Linked DNA regions of Homo sapiens. The protein of the gene in region 1 interacts with the protein of each later gene in a pairwise test. Each region holds a gene or a part of one and is shown in the gene's direction. Other genes may lie near its edges.

Region 1 (4,381 bases):
AAAGCAAGCTAAAAGCAGTGCATTTAACAAACCACAATATAATGTGATATATTTATAGAATTATTACTAAAATCAGAAAATCAATGTCTTAGTGATTAAGTCTAGGATAATCAAACTTATTGAATAGTTGCAGTAGTTACTTAATGAGATAGTTTTGATTAATCTTTTGTCCAAATAACAATATTGTGATTACAGGCTTAGCACTACAGGTAGTGTAACCATCAGTGAGTGAGATTAGTACATTTTACATAGTTTTGCTATTTTCTCAGTTTATTTTGGAGTCCAGTAATAACCAGTCAGTCTGTACCTGCCATAGGGCAATCTTTGGTTGATATGAGTTCCTTTCCTGATTTTAAAATAAGTGCAATCTTTAACCTAATAAAATTATCTTAAAGTTTACAATTGATGGTTTAAACACATTATAATTGCTCCGTATTTTGCAGATAGAAGAGGCTTAATCCATGTTTGTAGATCTATTTCCTAAAATAAAAATTAGTAAAAAAAAGTTTTTTTTCTTCAGGTTTAACATTCATTTTGTACCGGGAAGAGAAATGGAATAAGAGGCTCGGATTTTTAAGACTATGCAATCAGATACAAGTGCCATTTTGGCCAAAGAATGAGTAAAACATTCTAGTCCCGACACGTTTAATAATGGGCATACATCCTATTTCTTTGTTTCATAATCATTGAGCTCTCTGCCTTCTCTCTCTTTTTTGGTATGGTAACAAATTCGACAAAATCAATGCCATCTAGTTAAACTTTTTGATTAAGTAGTGGATCCGGTGTCCTATCCACGAAGAGGTGGGAAAAGCGATGTGGAGAAGCAGGCACGAACCCATCTGGAATGGAACATGTCCCTTCCGAATAATTTCATGTGGGAAAATAATTTCAAGTTGAAGGATAATTACTGCAGAGACTGCCAGTCACCCCCGGCCGCCGCCGGCCGCGCAGCGTCGGAAACCCTTCGCGGCAGCCAGGAGGGTCGCAGCCCTCCCGGAGCCCCGCTTCCTGCCCCGGGGCGGCGCACCCGGCTCCGGGAAGGTGCCGCGCGGGAGACGTGGCAGCAGCCCCTCCAGTCCGCGCCCGGGCGCAGCGGCCGAGCGCTCCGTGCAGCCGGGCAAGGAAGACTCCGCGGCAGCAGCGCACCGGCCGGCGGGGAGACCCGCCTGAAGCGCCGGCGCCCGCCAGGGGACGGGAAGTGGCGCCCGGCCCGCCCTTGCGGCCCGCGGCCCGCGGCCCAGCAGCTCCGCGCCGCCCCTTTTCTCTCGGCCTCTCCCTCGGCCTCCGCCACCCCGGCCGAATTCTTGCATAAATTATGCCAGGCGCGCCTGACGTCAGGTGGCGGCGCGCGGGCGCGGGCGCGGGCGCGGCGCGGCCCGGAGGGAGCTGGCGGCGGGCGCGCGCGGCCCCGCGGCTTCGGGTGCGCGCGGCGTGCCGGACGCGCGCAGGCGCTGGCGTGCTGGGGCCGCGGCGGCGGCGGCGGCGGCGGCGGCAGCGGCGGCGGCGGCGGCGGCGCGGGGGTTGAGTCGTGGTGGTGCGGACGCGCTCGTGCTCGGGAACTATCGGATTAAACTTGAATCGAGTGAAATTACACAAAGGAGCGCCGCGGAGGAGGCGGCCCGGGGACCCGGACACCCTGAAACTCACCAGAGACCCGTTCGCCCCCGGCCAACTCCGTGCCCGTGGATTCAGCCCCCTGGCCGCAGCTGCCGAGCCAACTCCGGAGCCCGCTCTGCGTTTTGTTTTCCCCTCGGCACTAGGCAGCGGAGGAGCCCGACCGACCCGGTGAGCGCGAGAGTTCGCCCGGCGCCCCCGGGAGGGGCGGCGGCGGCGGCGGCGGCAGGAAATCGCTCCGGGCCGGGGCCGGGGCCGCGCTAGGAGTTGGGAGCGAGGAGTTGGGCGTGTGCGGGGCGAGGGGCGAGGGGCGAGGGCGGGAGGGGGCCGGGGCCAGCGCAGGAGCGCAGCGCCGCCCGCGTAGTGTCGCCGGCGTCGCCGCCCGCGGGGCCCGAACCCGCGCCCCGAGCGCCGCCCGGCGCCCCAACTTTTGCCTGCGTCCGCCGGGCCGGCGGCGGCGGGGGCGCGCGGTGCGGCCGAGGGTCACTTCCTCGCATGTAAATGGCTTTTTGTTGTGCTGCCGGCGTGGGGGGGGGGTACGGGGGACAGGAGGGAGCGTGTCTGCGCGCGGGGGAGCGCGAGCGCGTTTCCTCCCGCCGGCGCCGAGCACGAGTTGCCGGCTCCATTCGAGAGAAAAAGGAAGGAGGAAAAGTTGGGCTCCAACTCAAGTGCGAGCGGGCGATGGGCGCGCGGGCGCGGGGCGGCTGAGCAGCGGCGGCGGCGGCTCGGGGACGGCGGCGACCCCCGCCTCCCGCCCCCGCCCCCCGCTCCGGACCGACCACGCCGCGCTCGCCGGGAGCTGCGGCCGCACCGGCGCGAACAAAGTGCGTTCCTCCCGGCGCGGCGGCGCCAGCCCGCGCGGGGACCGCCACCGAGCGAGGTGGGTCGGCGGCGGGGAAAGTGCGCGGGGCGCCGCGTGGGGCGGGGGCAGCGCGAACACGCGGCGCGGGAGGCGTCCCGAGCTCAGCCAGTGCCGGTCGCGGGCGCGGAGTTGCGAGCCCGGAGTTGGGGGCTCCTGGGGCTCCCCGGCGGCTCCCAAGTGCGCTAGGAGGAGAAGAAAGGGAGCGGGGCCGGGGCGAGCGCCGGGAGGCGCGGCGAGGAGGGGACCCCACCTTGTCGAGCTGGCCGGGCCGCCGGCGGCGGCAGCTGCATAATAGCGACTTTAACCTTCCAACGCAACTCGGCTCCCCCGCCCCCCAACCCGCCGGGGGTCAGCGCCGGTGGGGGGTGGTCACCAGGTGGCCCCCGAGGTGACCCGGGTGCGCTCTGCCCTCGCAGAGAGCCGCGGCTTGGAGCGTGAACGGCCGAGGTGGCTGGAGGCCAAGCGGTCAGCGGGGAGAGGAAAGGAGGGCGGTGGGGGACGCGTTGTTTGTTTGGTTCGCACCGGGGATTGGGCTCGCTGGGGGCGCGGGGCTCGGGCGGGGGCGCGGGCACCGGCTGGGCTGCGGTGCGGGGCGGGCGCGGCGGCGCGGGGCTGTCGAGGTCGCGGGGGGGGGGGGCGGGGGCGGCGGCGGCGGCGGCTCCCGGGCGGGGGTGGGGGCGCTGGTCGGGAGGCTCTGGGGAAGGAGCCGCCGGCCCCGAGCAGCCATCATTACCGAGCCGCCTTTCTCCGGATGGCTCTGCCTCGAGGAGCCCGGAGCCGTGGGAGCGCACCCCAAACTCCCGGCCGGCCGCCCGCTTTGTGAGCGCCCCCGTGAAGCGAGCGGCGCGGAGAGTGCTCCTGCTATGGGTCGGACTCTTTTCCTGGAGGTCACTTTTAGAGACTGCTCACGCCTTGGTTTAAACTAGTTTTTTTCCCCCTCTTCTGAACAGACAATGGACAAAAGAAAAGTAGCAACCCACATGGAGAGAGTTTCCTTTTGAATTGCTAGAATTAGATACACTATCCAGCGCTCCACTTGCTAAGTATACTTTTTAGTTTCCCATTGTATATTATCTAGCAATCGATTTAAATAACTTATCTTAAAAAGTGTCCCTTTTGGGGGCTTAATTTCTGGAATACATTACATGTCTTAATTTATTTTTAAAGGATTTTGTGAGGCCCTGATTTTTTATTTTCTAAAAATTTTAATTTAAGCCGTCTTTGCAGTGGGCGATACCTTTCTAAGGGGTTAAGTGTTATTTCACCCCAGTTCTCTCTCGGTAAGGGAGGGAGTACTCAGTATACGTAGTAATCGAAGAGGAAACAAAATACGTGTCTTTATTTCTTCACTGATCTTGTCTGACGATGACAAAAAATATCTTAGTGACTGTGACCTTAGCAGCATGGCTACCTGATTTATCCCAGTTATAATTATATTTAGATTGCAGTAATGTCTAAGTACAAGGTAATTCCTATTTCAGAAATAACTTGAGCAGTGATTTTACGAAGTTGAATCCTTCTCCCAGCCCCCAGAGTACATCTGTCGCGCAGTGTTTTTGTCTTGCTGTTGCACAACAGAAGCCCTCCAGTCTTTACCCTAAAATGGCAGCTTTCATTTGACTGAGGCCCATTCATTGACAATGATAATAAAGAGGCTGAAAGCTAGATGCTTGGGGCATGGAGTAGGACTTGGTTTGCCTTTCTAGGTGATAAGTAGGAGACATTTTATGTCTTCCAGTTTGCTCAGGAAAAGTTTATTTTCCCTGAAAAATCTGTCTTGTAGAAAAAAGTTATAGTAAAATAATTTGGAAATGGGTAAAGGCTTGAGCAGCAAATTTTAGAAGCTAAATTTTCTTATTTTGCCCAATAGTGGAAATATGGCATTCTCTTTTTTGGTAATCTGCT
Region 2 (3,708 bases), on another chromosome or scaffold:
CCAGCCAGGCCAACATGGTGAAACCCCGTCTCTACTAAAAATACAAAAATTAGCTGGGTGTGGAGGCACGCACCTGTAATCCCAGCTACTTGGGAGGCTGAGGCAGGAGAATCACTTGAGCCCGGGAGGTGGAGGTTGCAGTGAGCCAAGATCTCATCATTGTACTCCAGCCTGGGCAACAAGAGTGAAACTCCATCTCAGAAAAAAAAAAATAGTAAATGATGATAATTGCCTGCATCTATTGAGAGCTTAGTATCTCCCAGGCACTATACTAAATGTCCAACCTACATTGAGTAATTTAATCTTTACGTCAACCTTAGAGGTAGATATCATCTTCAGTTGACAGATAGGGTATAGAGGAGTCAAGTCACCTGCATAAAGTCACAGAGCTAGTAAATAAAACCAGGATCTGAATCCTTTAATCTGGCCCATGATCTGAAACTTTACACTGTACCACATGATAGCTGCCATTTTTTTGAGCCCCTACAATGCGCCAGGCACTATACTAGTACTTTATAGACCTCTCAACAGACATTCCATTTTACAAATGAGGAAACTGAGGTTTAAAAATTCGAAGTAAATTGCCAAGGTCCTCATGGTAGAACTGGGATTTGAACTTAGATCTTTTCAACTTCAAAACATATGTTTTTTACCGTGGTATGCTGACTAGCTATATGCATGAATAAGGACTTCCTTTTAACATCTGAGTTTGGAAATGAGTATTTTCTTAACTTCTAATTCCTTGTTTAAAAATTGTATAAAATGGCTAGGTGCAGTGGCTCATGCCTGTAATCCCAGCACTTTGGGAGGCTGAGGCAGGAGGCTCACCTGAGGTCAGGAGTTTGAGACCAGCCTGACCAACATGGAGAAACCCTGTCTCTACTAAAAATACAAAATTAGCCGGCCGTGGTGGCACATGCCTGTAATCAGAGCTACTGAGGAGGCTGAGGCAGGAGAATCTCTTGAACCCAGGAGGCGGAAGTTGCCATGAGCCAAGATCATGCCATTGCATTCCAGCCTGGGCAACAAGAGGGAAACTCCATCTCAAAAAAAAAAATTGTATGAAATATCCCTAAGTATAGCCAAGGAGATAATTCATTTAAAGAAAACCCCATCAAGGAAAAGTAAGACATATTTGAAACCCTTTCATCTAGCACATAGCAGGCACTCAGCATGTAGAGTCAAATAATCTACTTTTTTCCATCTTTATCATGCAGGAGAAGTCATTAGCTCTCTTACCATTTTTTCCTTTAGCCCTTTAACAAACATTTATTTTTCTTCTTCTTGTTTCTCTCTCTCTTTCTTCTAAGCTACCTGGCCTATCGAAACTTTATGATTGACACTTACCGACTGAACCCCCAAGAGTATCTTACCTCTACCGCCTGCCGCCGAAACCTAGCGGGTGATGTCTGTGCCATCATGAGGTGGGTCTTGTGGCTGAGGGGAAGGGGGTACATGAGGATGCCTGCCTATGGATGTGTTTTGGCAACAGTAGAGATGCCAGCAAGGAACACAGAGGAGCAGACAGAAAAAAGCACCTCTAGAGAAAGGTGAAGTACAGGTTTGGGGAATGAATGACTTGAGGGATTAGCAATGGCATTCTCTGAAGTGTAGAATATAGGACAAAGAAGGAGCATGTCTGTAATTGAAAGATACTGGTTCAGGCCAGGTGTGGTGGCTCATGCCTATAATCCAAACATTTTGGGAGACCAAGGTGGGAGGATTGCTGGAGCCCAGAAGTTCGAGACCAGCCTGGACAAAATGGCAAAACCCCATCTCTAGAGAAAATGCAAAAAAATTAGCTAGGCATGGTGGCACGTGCCTGTGGTCTTAGTGACTCAGGAGGCTGAGGTGGGAGGATCCCCTGAGCCCTGGAGGTGGAGGCTGCAGTGAGCGGTGATCACACCACTGCACTTCAGTCTCTCTTAGGGAAAAAAAGAAAGAAACTGGTTCAGTTTTACTAGCTATTCAGGAAGAAATGTTCGGTAGGTAGGTAGATATAGAGATTGGCCCAGGCTGAAGATGTAGACTTGGGTGTCACTGGCATTTAGGTGATAAATGAACAACTGGAGTAGGTGAGATTTCTTAAGGAGTACAATGAACAGAGGAAAAGGCCGGGGTTGGGTGGGGAGGGGGTTTATGCCCCTTCTACCCCCCACTTTTCCTCTTCCTCGTGCACCTTTCTGGCTATCCGTGTGACCCTGTCTCTGCCTCTCTCTGCACAGGGTCCATGCCTTCCTAGAACAGTGGGGTCTTATTAACTACCAGGTGGATGCTGAGAGTCGACCAACCCCAATGGGGCCTCCGCCTACCTCTCACTTCCATGTCTTGGCTGACACACCATCAGGGCTGGTGCCTCTGCAGCCCAAGACACCTCAGGTAGGGTGAGGTGCTATGGGGATGGGGCGGGTTGGGAAGATTGGGCTTCTTTGAACTTTTCTTTTTCTGGTTTTTAGGGTAATGGTTCAGGAGTGTTTTGAGGCTTCTTCCTTTTCCATGGGATGCAAAGGGTCACGGGAATCAGCCCCATGTGTTTAGCATCCTCTCTCAGCCTTTGTACCTAAGGCTGTAATTGCTGAGGGAGAAGAGATTATCCTTTTACTCAAGGAGTAGACAGGCTAATGTAGGGGAGTCAATAGAGAAAAATGGCTTAAAATTAACTTGCATGAAATTTTTAAACTTTGTCATCTTTGCCACATTTTTTCATTTTTGCCTCATAATTATCATCTTCATTTTTTTTTCCATTTCCACTTCATCCATTACAAAAATTAGGAAGAAGGTTATGTGGCTTGCCCAAGGTCACAGAGTACCAAATCTAGGATTAGAACCTAATTGTCCAGCTCCTAAGAGAACCTATAAAGATAATGTGAATATGTATGGATATCATGCCAACGACATGTCTTATTAATCATGAAGGGAACATGGAACAGTGGCATGAGTGCCCCCAGAGCTTGTGGGCCGCCCAGCATATGGTCTTGAGGCCTCCAGGGCCTTGGCCTGGTCATTTCCTGCCCAGCCTCCATGACGCCAAGCTCTGTCCCCCAGGGCCGCCAGGTTGATGCTGATACCAAGGCTGGGCGAAAGGGCAAAGAGCTGGATGACCTGGTGCCAGAGACGGCTAAGGGCAAGCCAGAGCTGGTAGGTGGGGTGCAGACCCTGCTGGGCTGCTCATTTTCCCCTTTATTGGGGGGCCCCTGCCCGGGAAGAAGAGACATGAGAGCAGAGGAACTACAGCAGTAAGGGAGGAAGTCCCACCCAGGGGTGTCCCTGGCTTTGGGAAAGAAGCTCCTTCTGTCTGTTTTTTCTCTCTGTCAGCCCCTGGCTCCCGGTGGTCACTTGTACTCACCTGTTTCTTTCCCTCCACAAATAGCAGACCTCTGCTTCCCAACAAATGCTCAACTTTCCTGACAAAGGCAAAGAGAAACCAACAGACATGCAAAACTTTGGGCTGCGCACAGACATGTACACAAAAAAGAATGTTCCCTCCAAGGTAGGAGGTGCGGGCCGACTCTAGGGGTAGAGAATGTTCGCTCCTCAGAGGTCACAGGCTCCTTTCTTCTCACCTGCCTGTGTTTCCCCTGCAGAGCAAGGCTGCAGCCAGTGCCACTCGTGAGTGGACAGAACAGGAAACCCTGCTTCTCCTGGAGGTAATTGGGGCAAAGAAAAGAGAGTTTTTCTCTGAAAACAGAAGTGGGCTCCGTGTAGAGG

What was found. The genes of interacting proteins can lie anywhere in the genome.
Region 2: the proteins of CHD7 (region 1) and SMARCC2 interact in binary tests that used the Homo sapiens proteins (3 or more experiments, as listed by UniProt).

Annotation. Positions count from the first base shown.
Region 1 is NC_000008.11:60,677,298-60,681,678, forward strand, and holds the start of CHD7 (chromodomain-helicase-DNA-binding protein 7), read left to right. Parts: upstream 1-1,442; 5' UTR 1,443-1,785; intron 1,786-2,197; exon of another isoform or gene 2,198-2,494; intron 2,495-2,583; exon of another isoform or gene 2,584-2,941; intron 2,942-4,381. UniProt on the Homo sapiens protein: ATP-dependent chromatin-remodeling factor, slides nucleosomes along DNA; nucleosome sliding requires ATP. Probable transcription regulator. May be involved in the in 45S precursor rRNA production.
Region 2 is NC_000012.12:56,172,367-56,176,074, reverse strand, and holds part of SMARCC2 (SWI/SNF complex subunit SMARCC2), read left to right. Parts: intron 1-1,310; coding exon 1,311-1,424; intron 1,425-2,225; coding exon 2,226-2,379; intron 2,380-3,045; coding exon 3,046-3,138; intron 3,139-3,370; coding exon 3,371-3,490; intron 3,491-3,584; coding exon 3,585-3,647; intron 3,648-3,708. UniProt on the Homo sapiens protein: Involved in transcriptional activation and repression of select genes by chromatin remodeling (alteration of DNA-nucleosome topology).